Linked DNA regions of Homo sapiens. The protein of the gene in region 1 purifies or fractionates together with the protein of each later gene. This does not show direct contact. Each region holds a gene or a part of one and is shown on either strand. Other genes may lie near its edges.

Region 1 (3,500 bases):
AGGTCCCTGGAAGTGCGAAAAGATGGAGAATAGTGGACTTACCAGAAATCTCTCAGGGAGTTGGTGGAGATGCTCCCGAGAGTTGGGGGCAACCCCCCGGGATCCCTCATTCTCTCCATGAGGGCAGGCCTCTGAATAACAGGATTCTGGCTTATGGAGCAGAAATGTTCAAATTTGGGTCCCGAGCTGAATTTCAAGACTGTGACAGAGAGGCTGAGTTCTTTCAGCTCCAAACAAAATGAGTGTTGTGCAAACATCCGAGGAACACAGGTCTGCGGGGGCAGGGCTGGGTGGACAAGGAGCCCCTAGCTCCTAGGTCATCTCTCTAGGGAGGGCCTGTTCTTAGCCTCAGTTGATAGAGACCAAGTTCGCAGACAGGAGATAATATGTCCAAATTTGAATCCAGATCCACTGGCCTTTAAAGTCCCTGCCCTTAAAAGCTGGTCCTAAGAGAGGAGCTGCTGTGAGCCCTTGAGGTCTGGGTAGGAAGGGAAGAACCTTCCTCGCTGGGGAACAGGGGGACCCTCTGGCCCCCTAGCATCTCTGAGAGCTGAGGCAGGAAGTGTGTTCTCACTTGGAAGATGCAGAGATTTAGGCCCAGAGTTGGGGAGCCACTTTTCCGTGACTCCTAGCAGGTTATGACCCTGATGATGTAGTAAAGCCTTAGGGGTCAGACAGCCTTGGGTTCAACTCTTGATCTGCTATTAATTTGTGTGACCGTGGACAACTGTCTTGGCTGAGCCCATTCCCTCCTCAGTAAAATGCAGAGAGCGTATCCTCCTCTTCCAAGCGTGGAGGAATTCAATGAGCTGATAAAGCCCAGCCCAGCTCTAGGAGATGCTCAAGAAATTGTACTGGCATCTCATGTGAGCACATCACCTGCTATATATAGGCTCTCAGTTAAGTCAAAAGACAGGAGCCAGGCACAGTGGCTCATGCCTGTAATCCCAGCACTGTGGGAGGCCAAGCTGGGTGGATCACTTGAGGTCAGGAGTTCGAGACCAGCCTGGCCAACATGTGAAACCCCATCTCCGCTAAAAATACAAAAATTAGCTGGATGTGGTGGCATGTGCTTGTAATCCCAGCTACTCAGGAGGCTGAGGCAGGAGAATCACTTGAACCCAGGAGGTGGAGGTTGCAGTGAGCCGAGATCATGCCACTGCACTCCAGCCTGGGCGACAGAGCAAGACTCTATCTCAAAAGAAAAAAAAAAAGACGGATTCAGCCCTGGGAACTACCTTCATGCACGTATGTGGGTGGGTGGGGAGAGCAGGCTCAGGCCTGGCTCACCTGACACCAGGAGGACAAGACTCAGAGGCCCAGAAAGCTCAGGAGTTGGTCTGCGGGTCTCCAGCTCAGTGCTGAGGCCTCCATGTCCTCACAGTCCCACTTCTGGCCTGGAGCTGGCTTGATTCCCACAGGGAGACAGGAAGGAACAGTGACCCTGGAATTCCCCAGGGGCCTCTGGGTGGAGCTGGGGACCCCACTCAAATCCCAGGGAGAGAGGGCTCTTCTGTATGGACTTACCTGCCATAGTATAAGATGGTTTCAGGCTTGATGGATCCGTCTAGGTGGACATGCAGTTCCACCTGCAAGGGGGCAGGGGGAAGAGAGAGAGAAAGGGAGAGAGAGAACAAATACCTATGAGTTCACGAAGGACCTTTCAGAGCTTAATGTTAACATTAATCATGATAACCATTAGCCACCATTTTACTGGCTGGCTGCTGACCCCATATACTTCGGTAAACTCTGTACTGCACTATCTCATTTAATCCGCTCCTGGGATGTGGGTTCAGCTGTTATCTCGATCTCTTTCACAATTGAGGACACTGAGGTTCGGAGGTGTTAAATATCTCATCCAAGGCCACACAGATTGCAAGTAATAGAGGCAGGAGCCCAACCCAGTATCTTTGTTCTTAATCGCAGCTGGTGAGTGGCAGAGGCGGAATTCTAACCCAAGCCCAATTCCAAAGCTTGTGCTCCAGGTCACGTAGGCAGCTCCCGCTCTCAGCCAACTAAATAAACTACTTTAACAAAAGGGATTGACCCAGATGTCCCAAACTAGGGAAGAGTCACAGCATATTTCAAAATTCAGGATCCATTTTCGTTTTCTTTTTTTTGAGACGGATGGAGTCTCGCTCTGTCTCCCAGGCTGGAGTGCAGTGACATGATCTCCTCTCACTGCAACCTCCACCTCCTGGGTTCAAGCAATTCTTGTGCCTCAGCCTCCGGAGTAGCTGGGACTATAGGCAGGTGCCACCACGCCCAGTTAATTTTTGTATTTTTAGTAGAGACAGGGTTTCACCATGTTGCTCAGGCTAGTCTCGAACTCCTGACCTCAGGTGTCCACCCACCTCAGCCTCCCAAAGTGCTGGGATTACAGGTATGTGCCACCGCAACCGACCCAGGCTCCATTTTCAAAAGCAGATGCTACTCAAGCATAGCCTATCAGGAATCAATATTAGGCAACGGAAGATCTTTCTAGTACTCTAGAGTTTAAGAGTAGGATCCTTGGAGGCAGCCCATCTGGCTTGACTCCCAGTTCTGCTGTGTGACCTCAGACAAGACACTTGACCTCTCTGAGCCTCAGTTTCCTCAACTGAAAAACAATGGAATATTATGCCCCCGTGTCCAAGAAAAATTGTAAGGATTAAAAAGGGCAGTGTAGGTGGACATGGATAGCCCAAAGGAAACAGCCCCTGCCGCTCAGTCAGGGTGTTTACCATGAGCTGTTAGGAGAAGCACAGCAGGCAGTGGGAGATGGTGGGGAAAGGGACTTTGCTGTTCCTGCTGTTCCTGTTCCAAATGATGGAAGCTTTCCCCCTAGCTAGGGGAGATCCAGAAAACTCTCAGCTGACATCTCATGCTGGGGTGGGGAGCATGGAGAGCTGGATAAGAAAGTTGGCTGCCCTGGCTCAGGGAGGAACAGCCAAGGAGCTGCTGGCCCAAGGGCGTCTAGGAGCACATACATGAGCTGCCTCCTGCAGAGGAAACCCAACCCAGGCCCAGGGGAGGCCAGCAGGGAACAGAGACACCAGAGGTCCTATCAGCAGGACCTCAGAGTCATCAGATCTCTCCTGAGGTCATCCAGCTGGCAGGGGACAGAGCGGTCTTCACACCCAGTCTCAGGGCCAACTTAGTTGTTGAATTCCCTGACAAAATGAGTTCAGTTCCCACCCAGCCAAACGTCTGTTTCTCGGGTTCTCAAAATATGCTCAGCATTGGGAATACTGAAGCTTATAGCCCAGGGAACGGCCAACCAGCTGTGTGACCTCAGGCAAGGGACCTCAACTCTCTGAGCCTCTGTTTTCTATCCTTAACCCTCACAGGGCTATGGAGAGGGCCCAGCCAGAGAGCCGGAGTCACACTGTATAGAGCATCATGCGGTTAGAGCTGGAATCTCGGCTCCTCCACTCACTCCCTGCTTGACCCTGAGAAAGTCACTTCACTTCCTGTGCCTCGGCATCCTCATCTGTTAAGTGGGGAGAATGGCAGTCCTT
Region 2 (3,359 bases), on another chromosome or scaffold:
TGCAGAAAACACCAAGGAATGTCTCCAAGAGAGTCCTGATCCCTAAACCCCTTGAAGGGAAGCACACCCTGCCCCAGAGGCTGAGACGTGCAGGTCTGTGAGGACAGGCCCTCCCATTCTGTAGGACAAGCCAGGCACGCCCCAAGCCCCTGCCTGGTGCCATAGCTTCACACCTCCAACTCCAGCATGCACCCCAAAGCCAAATGCAGAAGTGCTGACCTTATGTGGCAGCAGCCTCTCAAGGTCCTCTGGACTCTTGCCCGCAGCCTGGAGCTCCTTTCGGGCCTCCTCCGTCGATTTTCCCCTCATCAGGGCCTCTGTCTGGGCCAAGAAGTTGGCCAGGAGGATCTGATGAGCGAGACATCAGTTATGCTTGAGAGCACTGTCTGGGCTTCAGGCAGAGGGACAAGACCGCCTGGTACTTCTCAGCAGGGGTCAGTCCCAGCCTGGGTCACTCGCTGTACAGCTCAGTTGGAGCGAGGGGGACACATCCGATGACACCACAAGGCAGGGAACAGTGATAACTGCTCTTTAAGAACTACACACCAGTGGCCAGGCGCGGTGGCTCACGCCTGTAATCCCGACACTTTGGGAGGCCGAGGCGGATGGACCACGAGGTCAGGAGCTCGAGACCAGCCTGACCAACATGGTGAAACCCGTCTCTACTAAAAATACCAAAAAAAAATTTAGCTGGGCATGGTGGCGCATGCCTGTCATCAGGCAGGAGGCTGAGGCAGGAGAATCACCTGAACCTGGGAGGCAGAGGGTGCAGTGAGCCAAGATCACGCCACTGCACTCCAGCCTGGGCGACAGACCTAGACTCCATCTCAAAAAAAAAAAAAGAACTACACACCACTTGCTAGGGGTCCTGCTCACAATTTTACCAACATCTATCTTTTAAGATCCTAAGAAGGTAGCTGGGCGTGGTGGTGTGCAACTGTAATTCCAGCTACTCCGGAGGCTTAAGCACGAGAATCACTTGAACCCAGGAGGCTGAGGTTGCAGTGAGTCAAGGTCACACTACTGCACTCCAGCCGGGGCAACAAAGTGAAACGGTGTCTCGAAAAAAAAATAATACTAAGATCCTAAGGAGGAAAGGCATCATCGCCCTGTTCTAGTAGAGCCTTGGGTTCCACAAGTCCACAGTGCTGGATCACAGAACTATAGACAGGAACAATCAGAATTCAATCCAGCTCACTGACTCCCAAGATTGTGCTACCGTAACCCTGTGCTGCTCTGCACACCTGAGACAAAGCACAGTAAATTCTCTGAAGGAGTTCGAGGGCAGCTTGGGCAACATACTGAGACTCCATCTCTACAAAAAATAAAAATAAAAAAATCAGCTGGGTGTGGTGGCGTGTGCCTGTTCCCAGCTACTCAGGAGGCTGAGGTAGGAGGATTGCTTGAGCCCAGGAGGGTGAGGCTGCAGAGAGCCTGATTGTGCCACTGCACCCCAGCCTGGGCAACAGAGCAAGACTCTGTCTCTTTAAAAAAAAAAAAAAACTTAGCCAGGCATGTTGTACATCTGTGGTCCCAGCTACTCAGGAGGCTGAGATAAAAGGATTGCTTGAGCCCAGGAGTTCAAGGCTGTAGTGAGCTATGATTGGGCCAGTGCACTCCAGCCTCAGCAACAGAGTGACATGCTATCTCTAAAATAAAATAAATAAATAAAATAAACAAAAGGGGAGATTTTCCTGGATTATCTAGTAGCCCCAATCTAATCACACTGGCCCTTAAAAGTAAAAGAGGGCCAGGCACGGTAGCTCATGCCTGTAATCCCAAAACTTTGGGAGGCCGAGGCAGGAGAATCACTTGAGCCCAGGAGTTGGAGACCAGCCTAGGCAACATAGTGAAATCTGGCCTCTACAAAAAGTTTAACAGTTAGCCAGGCTGTTAGTGCCTGTAAGTGCCTGTAAGTGCCTGTTAGTGCCTGTAAGTCTCAGCTATTTGAGGGGCCGAGGCAGGAAGACTGCTTGAGCCTGGGACGTTGAGAATACAGTGAACTGTGATCATGCCACTGTAAGTCCAGCCTAGACAACACAGCATGACACTGTCACTTAGGGAACAAAAGCAAAATGTAGAAGAGGAAGGTAAACAAGTCAGAGAGATGCAACAGAAGTGGCAAGACAGAATCAAAGCTTCAGAGAAGGATTTAACCTGCCATTGCTGGTTCTGCAGTGAAGAGGCCCACAAGCTAGAGGATGCAGGTGACCTCTGAGAATCTGAGAACGACCTTCAGCCCACAGCAAGGAAGCTGGACTTCAGTTCCACAACCATAGAGAAATGAATTCTGCCAACCACCTGACAAGCAGGTCAAAGGCTTTTCCCCTAAGGTCTCCAGAAAGAAACACAGTCCTGATGACACCTTGATTTCAGCCTGCAAGACTCTAAGCAGAGACACATCAGGGCCTGCTGGATATTTGAGCTTCAGAAACTCTTCAGATAGCCCAGGAAGGTGGCTCATGCCTATAATCCCAGCACTTAGGGAGGCCGAGGCAGGTAGATTACTTGAGGTCATGAGTTCAAGACCAGCCTGGCCAACATAGTGAAACCCCCCCTTTACCAAAACTACAAAAATTAGCTGGCCATGGTGGTGAGTGCCAGTAGTCCCAGCTACTTGGGAGGCTGAGGCATAAGAATCACTTGAGGCCGGGAGGGGAAGGTTGCAGTGAGCCAAGATCGTGCCACTGCACTCCAGCCTGGGCGACAGAGCAAGACTCTGTCCCCCCTCCCCACCCCACAAAAGAAGAGTGTTGTTTTAAGCCTCCATGTTTGTTATCATTTGTTACGGCAGGAATAGAAAACTAACGTGATTGCCAACCAATGCACCAGGTTTTCAGAGGTCTGGGTGCAATGTGAGCCAGACCCCCCAGATGGGGCCAGATGGGGGCTCTTACCTTGTGATGCAGACCCTTCCGTATGGGGTGCTGGGTCTGGACCGGGATGAGGAAGTCACAGGGTATCATCTTGGTGCCTGTGAAGGGCACTGTGGTCACCCACATGACCCCAGCCCATGGGAGCTAGCCATATGGCCTAGAGGAGGGCACTGACCTAAGTGAGATATCTCTTCTGGAAGATCCTTTCCCTCCCCCAACATCACCCTTCCCAGGCCACAGGGGCCTACCTTGGTGGATGAGCTGGTAAAAAGCATGCTGGCCATTGGTCCCTGGCTCCCCCCACACAATGGGGCCTGTCTGGTGGTCCACACGGGTTCCAGATTTGGTGATGTATTTCCCATTGGACTCCATGTCGCCCTGGAAAAGGAACAGAAACCCAGTTCTTGGCAAAATGAAAGAACATTTAAAAAGAAAGAAAGAGGCTGAGCGCAGTGGCTCAAGCCTGTAATTCCAGCACTTTGG
Region 3 (4,065 bases), on another chromosome or scaffold:
AGCCTGGAGAAGCTGGGCAGGACAAGTAGGACATCCCTGGAGCCTCCAGAAGGGACTGGCCTCTGCCCACACCTTGACTTCAGTATTTCTGACCTCCTAAACTCTAATAAAGTCATGCTTACAGCCACTAGATCTGCAGAAGAGCCCTCGCTTGCTCCCCTAGAAGATGGGCCCACATGGCCTCTTCCTGCAGTGCCTGGAGGGTTCTAGCTCCTGAGGTGAGAACCAGGACAGGTTCTGCTGGGCATCACGCCAAGCAGCACATGCCCACAGTACAGCTGAAGTCTGGTGTTGTCCTGGGGCTCCCTGCCCTGGGGAACAGGAGGACAGGAGACGGCTCTTGTGGGAAAGCTGTTTACTGCGTTCTCCCGCTGTGTGTAATTGGGTTCAGTGTGGCTGAAACACAGCTTTGCCCCAGGCTTTGGCACTTCCAGCCCCAGGAGAGGCGCTGAACCCCAGCAAAGGAATGTGTTCCCTGTGGGCAGCCGGTGCCCCTGGTCACTGCAGTTGCCCAAGGCTGATATTTCCCTGGGATCCAGCTGGAGATGTTGGGCTGGGAGGCCCTGTGGTCACTCATACTGCAGGAGAGAGAAGAAGGGTACAGGTGCCAGCTTCTCCCTGCCCTTAAGCGAGGTCAGCTCCACCAGGCTCACGCACTCCAGGACCTCAGCCTGCAGGCGGCCCAGCAGCTCACAGGCAGCGTTCATGGTTCCTGGGGATGGGAGGGTGAGGTCCCCAGTTGGCCTGGGCTGCAGAGAGCAGGTGCTCCAGGCCAGCCCCTGGGTTGGGGAGGGGAAGGCATGGGGAGAGGAAGGTGTCGGCCTGGCCACCAGGCACCCTCTGGACAACAGTAAGCTGCATCCCATGTCACACAGCGAGGTCCTGTCCCACTCCCACCAGGCCCTTGGAGCCACAGCAGTTGGCTGCGGGGAGACCCTTACCACCAGTGGCCAGCAGATCATCCACGACGACCACCCTCTGTCCTGGCTCCAGGGCGTCTTTCTGAATCTCCAGCTCAGCCTGGAGTGGGAAGTGGTGTGTGGTCCTCAGCCTCCCGCAGAAAACAGCTTTGTTGCACAGCTTGGCAGCTGCCACCCTAGACCCTGACTCCAACCCCACCTTGCTGTTACCTGGCTGTGTGAGCCCAGCCTATGTCTCAACCTCTCTGAGCTCCCAAGGCCACTGTAACCACAGCAGCTCCACTTGACACGCCTGGGAAGGCCTTTTAGAACTGGGGGAGAGTGGCCACGGTGGCCTGGCCCTGCCCTTCCTCTGGCCACCCCAGCCCTCTTACCTTCCCGTACTCCAGGGAATAGGAGGCCCACAGAGTGGGGCCTGGCAGCTTCCCCCGCTTTCGGATGAGCACGCAGCCCAGTCCAAGCTCCTGGGCCAGGGAGGGGCCAAAGAGGAAGCCTCGGGAGTCTAGGCCTGTCAGGGTAAGTGACAGGAGTGACTCGGCAGCATGGGAATCCCCAGGGGCCAGGGTTGGCCGGTGGCAAGGGGTACCTGGTTGGCTCCCAGCTGAAAGGCCAGTGACATGCACCATTTAAGGAATGTTACCCATCACCTACCCGGAGCTGCTTCCAGGTCAGAGTGCAGACCTGGGTCTGTCTTTTAAGGGACCACTTCTTAGCTGTGTGTTCCTAGGGGAGTCACCACCCCTCTCTCTGAGCTGAGCAGCCCATCTGTAACTGGGCTGGTAGAAACCTGACAGGCCTCAGCTTACTCTCAAAGGCAGCTCTGCACCAGGGCTTCTGTCTAAAAAGGGAGTCTCTCGAGGTGGCCTGAGCTGTGATGGTTGGGGGACGCTCAGGGAAACCCTGCCCCGGCCTGGCAGGAGGTCAGGGAGGGCTTCCTGCAGGAGGTGAGAAGGGAGCTCTGGCAGTGTTGTGGCTCCAGCAAGAGCTGGCGCTTTCCTCAGGGCAGTGTCCAGGGAGTGGGCTGTCACACCCTAGGAGAGGCAAGACGGCCAGGAACACTCTGTTCTCCCTGGGCCACCTCTTGGGCTCTCCCGGAGGCCTCCAGGCCTCCCTTCCCTGGGTGGGCATTCCGTGATCTTCACCAGGGAAGGCCTGGCTCGTGGCAGGCGCTCAATACCAGCTCGCAGAAGGAACAAGAAGCAAGGCAGCTGGGCCCTGTGGATTCAGCTTGGGCACTCCAGGGAGACCAACTGACCCGGCAACTCGGTCACGCCTGTCCTGGGCTGGGGACCCGGAACCTGCGGGAAGGACGCCTGCACAGCGCGGCGGCCTCGGGGGCTCAATCTCACAACCCTTCCCGGGCGACCCAAGCACGGCGCCCGTCCCGGCGCCCCCTGAAGCACCCCAAAGGCCCTCCCCCAAGCAGACGCGCAGAGCCCACGTGCTGCCCTCGGCGCGCGCAGAGGCGGAAGCGCCCTAGATGCGGCCACTGGGCACTCGCCTGCGATGTAGTCGATGCGGCCCCCGTGGGTCGCCTTCAGGTGTCGCGCCAGGAGGCCGATGGCGGCGCGGAAGGAGGCGGGGTCCTTCAGGACGGGCGAGATGTCCCTGGACCCAAGGACAGGCCTGGTGACGCCGGGGCCGAAGGAGGGCAGGGCCCCGGGGGCGAAAGACGAGGGTTCCCGCCCCGCCCGCCCGGAGGTCGCGGGCCACGCGCTCCCATCCGTAGGCCCGCAGGTCGGGGCGCCACGAGGGCGGCCTGTGCGTGCACCTGAATACCACGCCTGGGGTGGGGAAGTCGGGGAAGCTGCGGATCCGCTGCTCAACCAGCTGCAGCTCGGAGTCGGCCATGGCCGCGTGCGAAGAGCCAGCGGCAGCCCGAGCGCGCCTGCGCGGGGACGGGCGGGACCGCCACGAGGGGTGGGGCATCCCCGGAGGGCGGAGCGTGGGTGAGGGGCGGGGCATCCGTCGCCGGAAGCCTGTACCGTATTTCATGGACTCCTAGGCGCCATCGATTTTAAGACGCGCTCGCATTCCACGCACCACTGAGCAGAACGTTCGAACCGGACAAAAGTGCGAGTCAAGGCGCCCTTCCTTGTCTCGGGCTACGCTTCTGACTGCAGCCAGGCAGCTGTGGGCCGGGGCCTTGGCGGCTGGAGGAGGGGCGTGAGCTGGTCTCGCCCACGCACCTGGCGCGCGTACGGGCCGCGCCCTTTCTCCTTTATTGGCCGAGATCCCCACGCTGCGCGCGGGAGGCTGGCGCGCGGGGTGGAGAAGGGCGTGAGGAAGCGGTCCAAGTAGCAGGAGGGCGGTGCAGGGCCCGGAGGGAGCAGCCCAGGGCGGAGGCGGCGGGCCTGGGCTGGACCGGCCGGGGGCGCTGGCCTCTCGCGGATGGGCCCTGCCGTTGAGGCGGCTCTTCCCCGCCCGGACCCGGGGGAGGGAGGCCGGAAGGTGTGGCCAGGCCAGGGCGCGCATCCGCGAGGGCAGAAGCCCTTCTGTCCGCCTGCAGAGGCCAGGTGACCCCTTAGCCTTGGGGTGGGGAGCTGTGAACCCCCTGGCCGCCCGAGGACTGGTACCCAGGGGGTTGTGTGAGGCATAACTCCCCCCAAACACAATTTCCTTTCAAGAAAATCCCCAGAGCTAAAATGCCTTGTGCTCTATTCCAAGACTTTTCTTCATTTCGCAACTTTTTTTTGAGAAGGACTCTCGCTCTGTCGCCCAGGATGGAGCACAGTGGCGCCATCTGGGCTCACTGCAAGCTCCACCTCCTGGGTTCCGGCCATTCTCCCGCCTCAGCCTCCCGAGTAGCTGGGACTACAGGAGCCCGCCACCACGCCCTGCTAATTTTTTGTATTTTTAGTAGAGACGCAGTTTCACTGTGTTAGCCAGGATGGTCTCGATCTCCTGACCCCGTGATCTGCCCGCTTCGGCCTCCCAAAGTGCCGGGATTACAGGCGTGAGCCACCGCGCCCGGCCCATCATTTCGCAACTTTTACAATTCAGCTTTGGCCTGGCAGTTACTGCAGAAGGGAAAACCCACTCAGTGGAAGGCAGCCCCCAGGAGCCTTCGGAGGGGGAGGCCGGAGGCTGCATGCGGCTGCTGGGGCCCCGGTTCCAGGGCGGGTGGGGGACCCATCGTCTGATG
Region 4 (3,500 bases), on another chromosome or scaffold:
AAACTTACATCTTCGAAATAAATGACAAAATACATTCCTGATGGGTTAAAAAAATAAGTTTAGAGAATGAAACCATGAAAATACTAGATACAGATGATTATTTATACAATTTTGGAGTAGAGGAAGATTTTTCTTTAAACCTGACACCAAAGATAGAAAAACTATGAAGAAAAAACTTCTGCTACATAAATTACACAAAATGGAAAACTCCTAGACAACAACCAAGAAAAGGAATTACAATCAAAACTAGAGTATACAACACAGTAGGGGGAACAACTGCAATATATTGGACAAAAAGTCCTTAATATGTAAATCACCTGTAAATATCAATAGGAAAAGAATGAACATGCTAGAAAAATAGGCAAAAGGCACAAAGCAATAATCCACAAAACAAGGAATTAGAATGGTCAAATAACATACGAAAAAATATTCAGGCCGGGCGCGGTGGCTCACGCCTGTAATCCCAGCACTTTGGGAGGCTGAGGTGGCAGGATCATGAGGTCAGGAGATAGAGACCATCCTGGCTAACACGGTGAAACCCCGTCTCTACTAAAAATACAAAAAATTAGCCGGGCGTGCTGGCGGGCGCCTGTGGTCCCAGCTACTCAGGAGGCTGAGGCAGGAGAATGGCGTGAACCCGGGAGGCGGAGCTTGCAGTGAGCCCAGAGCGCGCCACTGCACTCTAGCCTGGGCGACAGAGCGAGACTCTGTCTCAAAAAAAAAAAAAAAATTTCAACCCGACGCCCCCAAACAACAAAGAAATTAGAATTCACATAAAATCCTTTGTTAACTAATGTGCAAATAATGTTAAAAGTTGGCAGTGTTAACTGTGTTAGTGTAGAGGGGAAAATCACAATCATGTAATACAAGTGTAAATCAGTACATTTCTGGGCAATAGTTTGATGGAATGTACCAAAAGCTTTAAAAAGTGCTCATTGCTTTTGAAAGAACAAGTCCATTTTCAGCCACTCCAAAGGTAATTGTGGATGTATGAAGGGCTTTTACGACAAAGACATTCACCAGTGTTGCTTAGAACAATAAAACACTAGGAACGACATAAATATCCAACAATAGAGAATTGTTTCTCTTCCTACAATGTAATAATACGATGGAACTCCTAAAAAAGGATATACAGAAATGTATACACTTAATTATATATACGTATTTTTGACAAAAGATTGGAAAGATATACTCTAAAATGTCAGCAGTGGTTCTCTCTGGGTACATGGGTGTGTGTGTTTTTTTTCAGCTTCTCTGCTTGTCTAAGGAAAAAACTTGATTATTTTGTAAAAAGAATAAAAGTCATATTGAAACACCTACTGTTACTGGAAACTTTTCACATTGTAAAGTGACTTTCTAAAGAGCTGTTCCACGTCTCCATCTGACTACGATAAATTCAGTACATTTTTCTTTGGCTTTACTGCCTTAGTCCTGTTTGCTAGAACAGCAATATTGGGATTAAGACGCTGTTTCTCACAAGTGCCTCCGCCTGGCAGGCTCCATTTTTTTCTTTCCATTTACTTCAAAATCAACAAATCCCAGTTGACTTGGAGCCTGAAGGGACGCAGGACAGGAAGTTAACGCGTGGGTGAAGCTGCACAGAAGTGGGTAATTCAAAGGAAAGATGAATGCCAGCCGGACAGAAGGTCTGACCACATTGTCAACCAGAAATGCCCAAGGGGATTTCCATTCCAAAGAACAAAAGCTTCTTAGCACCATGGGGCTCTCTATTATTTTAAGCACTGAAATATCACTAAGGCTGGAGAGAAAAAATGGATGGTGGAGCTAGCTGCAAGCGTTAAGTTTTAAAGTCAGCAAAGGATCAATCACCTATCAACAAAAAAACACCATCAACACCCTTTAAATCACCAGTGAGGCAGAGAAACACCATCTCTCCACGAGTCCCACACAGCCAAGTCTAGCCTCCCACACTGGAACAGACGGATCTTTCTTTTGCTGAGCACCGGATGATAAACAAGGAGCACTGAACATTCTACAGACTCAGCATGGGGGCATCGGGGACAGGAGGCCGACCAGTGAAGAAGGAGAATTTCCAGGACTCCCTTCTCAGGCCCACTTGCAGGCATACGTTCACCAAGTAAGGGAGTCGGCACAAGTGCCCTTGCCATTCGCCAGCATTTTCCCCGTTTTTGCTTTTGTTTTGTCAGAGCAGGTAGCTGAATTTGCAGGCATTAAATACAAAATGAAACACTGATGAGGCTGCCTCTGCAGTCAACAAAACAAACCCTGCAAAGTTTCCTTCTTGTTCTGTGTGGCAGTCAGCGTGGGGGCTCCTCACTTCCATGCCATCCCTGAGTACCCACGCTCAAGTCTGGGAAACTGACCTCGGCTCCAGAGGAGGCATGGCTAAATGGTTTGGGGGTGATCCTATTTCTCTTGCCAGTGATTGGTTTAGGAGCAGGCACAGTATATCAAATCTGAACAGGAAGTTTGCTGGAAGATTCTAGGAAAGTTTTTCTTCTGCTCCTAAAAAGAAAGCAAAAAGGGCCGGGCACGGTGGTTCACGCCTGTCACCCCAGCACTTTGGGAGGCTGAGGCAGGCGGATCAAGTGAGGTCAGAAGTTCAAGACCAGCCTGGACAATATAGTGAAACCCTGTCTCTACTAAAAATACAAAAATGAGCTGGGCGTGGTGGCATGTGCCTGTAATCTCAGCTACTGGAGAGGCTGAGGCAGGAGAATCACTTGAACCTGGGAGGCGGAGGTTGCAAGTGAGCCGAGATTGCAGCACTGCACTCTAGCCTGGGCGACAGAGCAAGACTCCGTCTCAAAAAACAAATAATTTTTAAAAGTTAATAAAAATACTAAAAAAAAAAAAAAAAAAGCTGAGCGTGGTGGCAGGCGCCTATAATCCCAGCTACTTGGGAGGCTGAGGAAGGAGAATTGCTTGAACCCGGGAGGCAGAGGTTGCAGTGAGCAGAGATCATGCCAGTACACTCCAGCCGGACTGACAGAGTCTCAAAAAAAAAAAGCAAAAAGAAGTCAGCATCTCCTCTCCTACCAGATGGGATTGTGGGAGCATGTGGCCCCACCTGCTCCTGGCAGCTCTCCTGCAACCTTGAGGGGACTAGTTCTAGGAGAGGTACCCGCAGAGAACAACAGAACGTAGAAAGAGAAAATGTGGGGAGCTGGTGAATCATCTAACCTTGAAATCTTTCCCACCTATAGAATGCCTGCTCTGTGAGCTAAAAGATTCTATAACTGTTCAAAGTAGTTGGGTTTTCTGTTATTTACAGATGAAAGAATCATAAATCACTACATTACCAGTAGAACAGAACTAGTCTAGATCCCCTACTGCTATGTATTTAAGTTCTGATATGAGAATGTAGTCTCTCCGATAACAGGTAAAAGCACTGGCTGGGGAAGACACGTCACGTGAACACAGACTCTACAAAAAAAAGACAGGCAGCCCTCACTCTCCTTTCACCAAAGATGCCTTTAGACAGAGGCTTTTACTGGTTCTGGTATAATTACCTGACT
Region 5 (3,500 bases), on another chromosome or scaffold:
TTTTTTTTTTGAGACAGAGTCTCACTGTCGCCCAGGCTGGAGTGCAGTGGTGTGATCTTAGCTCACTGCAACCTCCGCCTCCCGGGTTCAAGAGATTCTCCTGCCTCAGCCTCCTGAGTAGCTGGGATTACAGGCGTGCACCATCATGCCTAGCTAATTTTTGTATTTTTAGTAGAGATGGGGCCAGGAGTGGTAGCTCACGCCTGTAATCCCAGTACTTTGGGAGGCCGAGGCGGGCAGATCATGAGGTCAGGAGTTCAAGACAAGCCTGACCAACATGGTGAAACCCCATCTCTACTAAAAATACAAAAATTTAGTTTTTATAGAGATGAGGACTCACTATTTTGCCCAGCCTATAATTTTTTTTTTTTTTTTGAGACGGAGTCTTACTCTGTCGTCCAGGCTGGAGTGTAGTAACACAATCTCAGCTCACTGCAACCTCCGCCTCCCAGGTTAAAGCAATTCTCCTGCCTCAGCCTCCCGAGTAGCTGGGATTACAGGCGCCCACCACCACGCCCAGCTAATTTTTGTATTTTTAGTAGAGACAGGGATTCACCATGTTGGCCAGGCTGGCCTTGAACTCCTGACCTCAGGCGATCCACCCACCTCGGTCTCCCAAAGTGCTGGGATTACAGGTGTGAGCCATGGCAGTGGGCCTATCATTGTTATTTCTTATTTCTTATACCAATATCTGGAACTGACCACTGAGAGATAAGAGGCAAGTCTCGAAATAGACAATATAATTAAAAGCCATGAGAAAATTCACTAGCTGATGCCCTAAATTACATTTACATGTCTTAAATCATCCTTGGACAATAGGTAACCATGACCTAATGTCATTTTCCTTCAGAAAGTCCCTTTCCATTCTCTATGCAAGCGTCTAAAACAGGCAAACCCATCCTAGCTTACTCCTCTACTTGACCAAAATCTTAACTCATGCCTTAATCACACTTCCCATCCTGCCTAACACATTTTCCTTTTATGGACTCACAATTCCCTACTCAGGGGACATCAGAACACGGAGGCTCCACAGCTCTAACGAAACAGGAAGCGGAAAAGGATGGCTCACCATCCTTACTTACTGGCTTCTAGGCACCTCTGCAGGCATCTTCCCAAACCAACTGTGACATTTCCTGACAGCCAGGTTCTTCTCCCAATTGCCTCTTTCCTATCATTATTCATACTCTGTTAAGCTTTTCGTGTGCTCAGTCTCCTAGGCTCAAAGCCTCCTGCCTCTTCCCCATTCTAGGCTCCTTTCTCACAGGTTTTTACATTAAACCAAAATCATCAAATTTGGCCTTTGCCAAAAGTAGCATTATTAGGTCTTCAGGAACAGCTCAGGCAAAAAGTTAAAATAATAGGTTTTCATTAACTTCATACTTTACATTCATTTCTGTCTCCTGAATTTTCCCCCCGGAAACCTCAAATGAATGGCAAATCAATTAGATTCAAGGTAATATTGTCTGAATATTGAGTTAGCTTTTGTTAATTACCAGAACAGTTTTCAGCATCATTTCCTATAGAAAATTTATTTCATTTTTTTCTGTTAGAAAAAACAAAGACGGGGGGAAGTTTGAAGCCTGTCCTTGAAACAATATAAAGAATTCCCACTTTAAACTGTCAAAACAGTCCATCTGTACAATCCATTTGCACCTTCCCAAGTGCCACTGAAAAGTTATTAAACAGACAGCAATCCAAAAACACAGGAAAGTGTGGGGAGAATGAAAAAAGTTAGGAAAATGTATACATTAACAAAAACCCAAGTTAGGTTTTAAAAGTCTCATCCTCAACTTTTAAATAACTTGTCTCCCTGGCACTATAGATCTGAATCACTCCTGGTTCCTTCTTAGGTATCAATCTACCAATTGTTTCCTGCATAAGGAGTTTCCACATAATGTCAAAACTCACATTCCCATTCTTGGCTATTCCGAACCCACCTATTCACCTCCTTTTTCAAGGTCAAGTTTAAGCCTCCTTCCATCTTTCCCCATGTCTCCTAGCCCTACTTAATGTGAGCCCCACTTGACTCTTTAAGCATGGACCATCTTGTATTGTTTTCTTTCCAATAAAATTTGTAAACCTAAAGAAATTAACTGTTTAATAATTTCTTATATCTTCCATAGTACTTAACTCAGTATTAGCACTTAGTTCATGCCGGTACATTCTTTAAGTCATAGTTAATAATAACTAGAAGAGACCTTTGTGATCATCTAGCCCAAGCCCTTCTTTTATACCTTGCTTATATAAAGTATTCTTGACTCTAAGAATTCCACTATTTACTTCTTTTAGAACAGTGGTTCTTAGCCTTGGTTTAGGAATTTCCAGAAAAAAAGCCTCACATTAGAATTTTTTACTGTAATTTCAAGGATTTACAGAACTCCCTGATCCTACTAATAGAGCCCACATTTAAAAATAATATACTATTAGGCTGGGCGCGGTGGCTCACGCCTGTAATCCCAGCACTTCGGGAGGCCAAGGCGGGCAGATCATGGGGTCAGGAGATCGAGACCATCCTGACCAACACGGTGAAACCCCATCTCTACTAAAAATACAAAAATTAGCTGAGCATGGTGGCACGCGCCTGTAGTCCCAGCTACTCCAGAGGCTGAGGCAGAAGAATCGCTTGAACCCGGGAAGCAGAGGTTGCAGTGAGCCAAGATTGCACCACTGCATTCCAGTCTGGCGACAGAGCGAGACTCCGTCTCAAAAAAAAATAATAATAATAAACTATTATCGATGACAAAAGCAGGTGTTTACTATGTGTCAAGCACTCTTCCTAAAGCTTTACATAGGATGGTATACGGTTAGACCACACTTGCCAGCCTCTCTTGCAGATGAAGCTATGTGATTAAGTTCTCTCCAATAGAATGTGACCGGAAGTAACAGGTAGAACTTCTGAGCTGGGGCCCTTAAGATGTGCTTCCTCCATATTTTCCACCCCCCACTGGCAACAGACAGTACTTGTCACCCACCAACTTTGACAATTCAGAAGAGGACAATGCTCTGGGAGTTAGTGGACAAATAAGCTAGAAAGAGCCCGGGTCCCTTAATGACTCTGAGGAGGAAAGCCACCCTAACATCTAAGACATTCTCCTGGACTGAGGGGTGAGAAATAAACTTCCATCATATTTGAACCACTGTTTGTGGGGGGATAACTTATTACAGCAACTTAAACTACCCTAACTAATATGCACAGATTAACAGTTTTAATCCCCTCAGTAACCATATAAAATTGCTATTATTATTATCCTGATATTAGAAGTTAGGAAACTGAAGCACTGAGAGCTTAAAAACTTGCCTGACATACTAGAAGCCAGATTCAAGTCAAGCAGTGTGGCTCCAGAGTCCAAGCACATTAGGAACCTCTGCCAAATATCTCAAAAGAAACAGACTCTTATGTGTTATGCCACCCTGCACCAGATTAACTTTTTACAAACACCACCCCAATCCCAGCAGCTTGGTGACTACTTGCTGACAGTGATCATCCCAGTTCACAGTGG
Region 6 (3,500 bases), on another chromosome or scaffold:
TGGGCCATTCCTCACACACAAGCAAAACTTCCCGGATGATGCTGGGGTGGAGTGGGGAGCCAGGGGAAACCATAGGACCTCAGAGTTAGGAGCCGCCCGCCACCTGCCTTCCCCCAGATCCTCTGGGCCAGCCTTGCAGTGTGCACATTAGGAAAATGACCCAGAGAGGGGAAGTGACTTGGTTGAATGCCACAGTGAGTCACTTGGACCTATATGCAAATTCTGTTGCTCCTCAAGTCACCAAGGACTCATCGTCTTAGAGGCAGCCAGTGTGCTCAGGGGCTGGCTGTTGGAGGGGATTTTTATGGTGAATCTTTTGTGAAGTGACTTCAGCCAAGTAATTGTGCAAATGAAGATTTTCCCAGAGGCTGAATTACTCGGCATGGATTCCACCTACCCAGGCCATAGATGAGGCTAGAAAGTGCATCCCTCCCTTGGGGACGTCAGAGGCCTTCTGCCCCACCTCCTGGCCCCTCTGCCACAGAGCTGGGTTCCACAGCCTGGGTGGTTGTGGGCCCTGAGGCCATGTATGAGGCTTGAGGTGGTGCCTCTTGAGAGTCAGGGAGCAGGGTGCACCATCTCTGCGGTGAATTATCTGAAACTGGTGGGTGCCTATCTAAAGAGGAAGCCACAGCAGGTTGAGGGTGCCCCAGCAGGAAGGAGGACCCAGCTAGATGAGCAAATGGAAATTTAGAGCGTCAAAGCCAAGGGGCCCTTAGAGGTCATTTCCTCTCATCTTCGGGATGGAAAATGAGCCTCAGAGAAGACAGCCAGCTGTTTCCGGGCCACACAACGAGTTGGTAGTGGAGCTGGGGCGAGTCCTGGAAAGAAATGTGGCCTGATCCCCACTGTGACTTCAGTCACTGGGGAGCGGTCATGAGCAGCCTGTCTCGCAGAGCCTGCACCAGGTGGCTGTCCCTGTCACCTGGGCTCTAAGTGGGAGCAGGAGCTGCACTGGGCTGCTCCAGGGAAGGGGAGGAATCTGGACCTCACACTGCCCTGTCAGATGCTCTCTATCCCAGGAGAGTCTAGAACCCTCGGCAAAGGAGAAGGGGACCCTGGCCAGCCCTGAGAGGGGTGGAATTAGGGATTGTCGGACTCCAAGTGCAGTCTCTGGTGAGCCTCCATCCATTGCTCTGCGACGGGCAGAGCAGAGTTTAGGTTCGTCCAGTGGCAGCTCAGAACACGGAGGCCCAGGAGGGGCCCTGTCTGCAGGTGCCCAGGTGGGCCAGAGAACAAAGCACTGGAGGGGACTTCAGGGAACCAAGCTGAGTCTGCACACTGATGGGATGCTCTATGGGGAAGCAGAGGCCAAGCTCTCACTTTTTTCTCTGATTCAAAGGGTATGATCAGGGCTGCCGTTCTCAATTTAAAGGAGCTCGACTTTTTTTCTCTTTTGTCTCTCCCTTTCCTTCTCTGTTTTCTGAGAGTTGAGAGAATGACTCCCTATGTAGTAGGACAGGATGTGCTGTGTGGCTATGGAAAGTTAGCTGCCTCTCTCTGGGCCCATTTCCTCATCCATAAAATAGGACAAGTCTCTCTGCCCCTCTGAGCTCACAAAGGTGTTCTGAAGGTCCAGTGAGTGGATGGGGTGACAGGGACCCTGAGGAGGGTTGGAGGCGTGGGGAGGGTGGGGATTCAGATCTTTGGGTTCAGAGCCATGGACCTGCCCCCTATCCTCTACCCATCTCATCCCAACTTCCTTGGAGCTGGACCTTAGTTCCACCCAGACCTTGAGCCATTTGACTCTGCTCCATGAGGCTCTGCAAGGCTTAGGCTGGTCTCTTCTGCAGGGGGCCCTGGAGAGGATGACGACGATGATGTTCATCCTCCCTTGAGGGCAGAGAGCTTTGCAGTTGCCAAAGGATGTCAGCTCAGCATCTCCTGTCATCCTCTTGGCCTGCATTGTGGCCAGGCGGATGTTCTGACCCTCCTGTTACTCACAAACTCATGGGGAGGCCAGAGCAGGGAAGGACATACGAGTGTCTCCTGATGTGGATGGACTCCAGGGCCCTTCAGGCTGTTCCTGGCCCGCAGGTCCCTTCGCTTTCCTGTTCCTCAGGGCCCCTGGGCCTCTGGGCATGTGGAGGTGTCCATGTGGGCTCCCGAGAGCAAGCGGGGTATGAAAGGAACTTGGTGACACTCCTGGCCGGCGCTGGAGTCACAGCCTGCCTCAGGATCCTCCCTCCTCCTTTCTCAGCTGGGAATCCAGCCTCCTCTACGTGCCGTTTCCTGCTCCACTCAGAAAGGTCCATTCGGCTAGCCCTGGGTCTAGCCTCAGGCCTGCCCCACTCTCCATTAACTTTTTTTTTAAAAAAAAGAACTCAGTTTTGGAAAAATCTGTTATTTTCCAAGTTCAGGGAACCTGTTGGGCTAGCACAGGGCCTAGTCGAGGAACTCTGTGAGAAAGACTTCAGGCCAGAGGCAGAGATGTAGCTCTCTGTGTTCCCAGAGGATAGGGAATTCAGGGTGAGAGACACAGGCTTCTTTTTCCAGTTCCCAGGGGATTTTTGCCTCACTGTCCCCTCCCTGGCTCTCACAGCAGCCCTTGGTGGATGTTCTCGCTGGTTTGAGGAACAGGCCAAGGTGCAGGTGGCAGCTGGTGGTGAGGCCCGAAGTCCTAACACTTCTAAGAGGGCAGGATTGGGAGAGAGGGCTCCCTGGAGGAGGTGTCACCCAGTGGGTCTTGCAGGACGGGCAGGCAGGGTCTCACTGGCATGAGTGTGGGGGCAGGTGTGTCAGGAGGGGGGCAAAGCCTGGGACAAGACCCTGAGGAAGGAATGAGCATGTGAGCACTGGGTAGGGAAGGGTGGCCTGGCTGCCTAGTGACAGAGAGAGATGAACAGAGTGGGCAGGAAAGGTGGAGGCCAAGTCAGGCCTGTTCGTACCAGGGGAAGGAATGGAGGTTTCCCTGTGGGTCCATGGCTCTTCAATTCTTGGATCAATGACTCCTTTGGACAACTTAGGAAGGCTCCACCTACTCCTCAGGTTGGGACATGTGCACATAAAGCCCCAGCTGGAATCATGGGGCATATTCTTGGACCATAGGGTGAGCCCCCAGTGTGGGTAATGGAGATCCCCAGAAAGGGGCAGCCTGCAAGCCGGGGGACACAGAGCTGCAGAGGGCACCTCCACAAAGGGTGGGCAGCAGCTCTGGGACCCACATTCTCTGACATGCCTGGGCACCCCAGAGTGGTGGTGTGTCACGCTAGACAGCCTTGGCATCCCTTCCAGCTGGATGGTCAATGTTTGGGGTCTAAGACGGCAAGATGTGAGTGTGTTGGTCACAGATGCAGCCCAGGATATGCTGCTGGGCCTGGCTGAGGCTCAGCTGTGATTCCATTTGGGCCCTGATGCTGTCCCCACCCCGTGGGCACCAGGGTCCAGGGCTCTCAGCCTATGGAGATTTCTTTTGAATAAACTTAGTCTATTTGCAATTTAAGAAAAAAAAAAGTCATGTTTTGCCCACTCTAAAACATTAAAAAGGAACAAAAGAGTAT
Region 7 (3,500 bases), on another chromosome or scaffold:
GGACACCCTCCCACCCCTACCCAGTATACCAAAACGTGCATACTCAGGTCCTATAGTTGGCCCCTGAGAATGTGGAGCCCAAGTATAGGAAAAGTCAGCCCTCCATACAGATGGGTTTCTCATTCAGACAACACGGTATTTTCCATCTGTGCTTGATTAAAAAAATTCCTCGAATAAATCCTTCAAAGTTCAAACCCCTGTGGCTGAAGGGTCAACTGTATGTATTTTCAAGTATATCACACATAAGGATGACTACTGTTTCACAAAACAATACACAAACACACAAACATGCATTTAAGCATAAACAGCGATTCAACACCAACATTTACTGAGCGATCACATGCAAAGCCCTGAGCCCAGGGATACAGATCCAGGCATTAGCAGCCCAAGGTCAGGGACACCACTCTCCAGACCACGATGTCGACATCAGGGCCATCCTTACTTTAGACCAGCAAGTGAGAAATCCAGGTTCCCCAGGGCTCCCTCAGGTTTGATAATTCCCTAGAATTACTCCCCAAACTCAGGAAAGCAGAACACTTACCATTACAATTTCATTATAGTAACAGCAACAAAAACAAAAACAAACAAACAAACAAAACAGCCAAAGCAAGTGACCTATAGGGCACATTCTGGGAGGTTCCCTAACAGGTAGCTCCACTGTCCTCTGGGACACCTTACTCTCCTGTCATCAACATGAGACAATATTCAAAGAGCACTGCCAACCCAGGAAGCTCCTCAGAGCCATAGTGCTCTGAGGTTTTATTGGGGTTTTCGGAGGGAGACACAATGGGTTGAATCACTGGCCATTCAGCTGAACTCTATCTCCACTTTATTTATTATATTTATTATAATAAAAGTGGGAAAATGAATGCTGATAAACAATACACTACAGCAGCACAGAAAAAGAACGATGCTACAAAGCAAAAACAAGATATAAGAAAATTTCTTACCAGAAAAAAGAAAGATTAGAGATGATATTAAAAGGATGATCAGGATCTTAATGGACAGAGGAAGGGAAAGGCATTTAACTCAGAGGGATTGTGGCACTAAGCAGGTGAGGCTGCGATGCTTCAGGTACAGAGAGCCAGTGTCTGGAAACTGACGGGCTGGTATACAGGAGCCCTAAAACACTGGGCCAACATTTGAACTTTGCGTAGCCACTATGAGGAGAAATAGAAAGTCCTATGGAAAAGGGTAATATGACTTATTCAACAAACATATTTTGTATGCCAACTCTATGTGCCAAGCACTGTGCCCTAACCTGAAGACAGAAAGTTGTTTAAAACACAGACCCTTCCTACAAGTTACCAAAATTACCGGCACAGCTAAGGAAACACTAGAAGAGCACATGACTGAATTGGAGAGACCTTGTAAGAGGCTCGTATGAAGGAGCAAATACAAGACAGTGTCAGAGTGGAAAGGTGTGGCAGCTTTCCTCACCCATCATAAAGGTCATGGAAGATACTCCTGTAACAAAAGACAGGTTAACAAGAGCCTTCAGAAATGAAGACCCAAAGACCCAGGGAAACGGTTTTGATGCTTAGATGACCAATGCACAGCTGTGTAGAAATGGCACTGGACAAAAGGAAATGATCCAATGGTAGCAGACTGAGGGAAACCCAGCAGGGCCACAGCATTTCCTCCCCCAGGAATGAGGCAGGGCCCCTCTGAAATGCTGTCTTCAAGAGAAGGCAAAAGGGAGAGAGTGATCTTTCTAGGTTTTATGGCTTGCTTTGCAGGAGAGGAGTTCTAGTTTCTATGATCTGCGCTGGGGAAGATAAATGATGGTTTCTACGACCTTGCTTCTGGGGCTGCTCTGAGGCCTTCCAGTCTCCTTAATGCCAAAGCACCACACTGAGTCCAGACATTAGGAGCTGAATTTAGGAAACAGATACGAAAAAGAGGAACTGTGAGAATAGGCAGCACTAACTAAGAGTTTACTCTTTATCACTATTAGGGTCTTCTGTTTATGATAAACAAATACAATGAGGATCTTCTAGTGTTGTAAAACACAGCTAATTCCCTAGTTCAGAAAACCAACTCACTGCCTTACTACAGCCTTCAGTTTCTACATTGTAAGACCTAAGCATATTACGTACTTTTTTCCCACAGAGACTGTAGTTTCCACAGCAGTAAAAAATCTTACCTACAAACCATAAAGGGAAAGACAACAAATTAGCCTTGAATACCCTCTATATGCTAATTTGTGTTGTGAAGTTTTTCCTTTCGACATTCTAAATTTTGTTTAGTTTTCTAAACAGGTATTGTCATCAGCACTATTTTAATTATTGAAAGGCTTCCCATGGGTGTGTAACTCTTTTACTTGTCACCATATACCCTGGGAATATTTTTAACAGCAAACATTGTATTCCAAATTAAGACAATTATTATTTTGGATCTGTAGAACAACAGATGCCTAGTATCTCAGCATCTAAAAATATAATAAAGACTAGCCCCACACGTTTACAAATAATTATCTTTAACTGTAAAATAACAGCTTACTTTCCCCACAACAATATGAAAACTTGCATTATTAACTGTCCTAAAGGCTAGCAGTAGCTTGCCCTGTTGATTTCGAAAGTTGATGCCACCAAATTTTGTTATGAAAAAATGGAGCACCCCGGTCATCAGTGAAACACTGCATGTACTTCAGGTTTCGCCTATCAAACAAGTTCTAAAAACAGAACATTCCATCTTCAAATGCCTTTAAAAAATGTTTCAATCTGTAAAGTCTCAAGTTTGTCTTTTCCAAATTAGGCAGACTATTTTATACCCTTCTTCAGCATCTTCAATTCAAGGATGGAGACTCATAAAAGGCAGATAGGCTCTGGGAGGGTGGGGCTGTGTCTGCTATACCTGGTAAGAGACCCAGCACCCAGTATGGGTGTAGCCCAGAAGTAAAGTGACTCCACCAGCATGTGCTATCTCCACCAACCATGCTGGCTGGGTCATGGCTCCTGCATCATCTTCACTAATAAGTCTCTATTGCAAAAACATAAAGCACCCTTCATAATTGTGCTGTAGTAAGGAGCTCAATTATTTTCCATCATTAGCTTCACCAATGAAAAACCTCTGATGCTTTTCTACACTTCAATCTCAATAGGGTCCAAACAAATGCTTTGAATGAACAAAGTTTTTTACATTTCAAAAGCATACAACTCTTACTGTCCTCTATATGGCTACCAAGTAAAATGCCATTTACCGCTCAAATTCCCTCAGAATGCAACCAGTAAAGGCATGCTCCACCTCCAGTTTCATCTCAAAACAACAGCTGAAACTCTTCTTTTTTAAACTTAAATTTGATCACTTCCCACCTCTGCTCAAAACCCTCCAATGTTTATTCAGAGTAAGCCCAAGTCTTCACATGGCCTCCCAAGATCTGGACCTAAAACAGGGGTCTGAAAATCGGCTCATGGTCCACTGCCTTTATGTACAGCCCACAGCGGTAAGAATAATTTTTACATTGTTGAGTAGTTGGAAAAAATCTAAAAGTAGAGTAC

Evidence for each region.
Region 2: the proteins of ADA (region 1) and GPI fractionate together in Homo sapiens (co-fractionation; one large-scale study listed by BioGRID). This does not show direct contact.
Region 3: the proteins of ADA (region 1) and APRT fractionate together in Homo sapiens (co-fractionation; one large-scale study listed by BioGRID). This does not show direct contact.
Region 4: the proteins of ADA (region 1) and GLOD4 fractionate together in Homo sapiens (co-fractionation; one large-scale study listed by BioGRID). This does not show direct contact.
Region 5: the proteins of ADA (region 1) and CLIC4 fractionate together in Homo sapiens (co-fractionation; one large-scale study listed by BioGRID). This does not show direct contact.
Region 6: the proteins of ADA (region 1) and ADORA2A purify together in Homo sapiens (affinity purification with western blotting, with the first as the bait; one study listed by BioGRID). This does not show direct contact.
Region 7: the proteins of ADA (region 1) and ACP1 fractionate together in Homo sapiens (co-fractionation; one large-scale study listed by BioGRID). This does not show direct contact.

Annotation. Positions count from the first base shown.
Region 1 is NC_000020.11:44,634,700-44,638,199, forward strand, and holds part of ADA (adenosine deaminase), read right to left. Parts: intron 1,590-3,500; coding exon 1,528-1,589; intron 1-1,527.
Region 2 is NC_000019.10:34,396,196-34,399,554, reverse strand, and holds part of GPI (glucose-6-phosphate isomerase), read right to left. Parts: intron 3,255-3,359; coding exon 3,125-3,254; intron 2,975-3,124; coding exon 2,898-2,974; intron 349-2,897; coding exon 220-348; intron 1-219. UniProt on the Homo sapiens protein: In the cytoplasm, catalyzes the conversion of glucose-6-phosphate to fructose-6-phosphate, the second step in glycolysis, and the reverse reaction during gluconeogenesis.
Region 3 is NC_000016.10:88,809,129-88,813,193, forward strand, and holds APRT (adenine phosphoribosyltransferase), read right to left. Parts: upstream 2,801-4,065; 5' UTR 2,772-2,800; coding exon 2,692-2,771; intron 2,529-2,691; coding exon 2,422-2,528; intron 1,429-2,421; coding exon 1,295-1,428; intron 1,021-1,294; coding exon 942-1,020; intron 713-941; coding exon 570-712; 3' UTR 211-569; downstream 1-210. UniProt on the Homo sapiens protein: Catalyzes a salvage reaction resulting in the formation of AMP, that is energically less costly than de novo synthesis.
Region 4 is NC_000017.11:772,281-775,780, forward strand, and holds part of GLOD4 (glyoxalase domain-containing protein 4), read right to left. Parts: coding exon 3,495-3,500; intron 1-3,494.
Region 5 is NC_000001.11:24,751,947-24,755,446, reverse strand, and holds part of CLIC4 (chloride intracellular channel protein 4), read right to left. Parts: intron 1-3,500. UniProt on the Homo sapiens protein: In the soluble state, catalyzes glutaredoxin-like thiol disulfide exchange reactions with reduced glutathione as electron donor. Can insert into membranes and form voltage-dependent multi-ion conductive channels.
Region 6 is NC_000022.11:24,434,099-24,437,598, forward strand, and holds part of ADORA2A (adenosine receptor A2a), read left to right. Parts: intron 1-3,500. UniProt on the Homo sapiens protein: Receptor for adenosine. The activity of this receptor is mediated by G proteins which activate adenylyl cyclase.
Region 7 is NC_000002.12:267,947-271,446, reverse strand, and holds part of ACP1 (low molecular weight phosphotyrosine protein phosphatase), read right to left. Parts: intron 1-3,500. UniProt on the Homo sapiens protein: Acts on tyrosine phosphorylated proteins, low-MW aryl phosphates and natural and synthetic acyl phosphates with differences in substrate specificity between isoform 1 and isoform 2.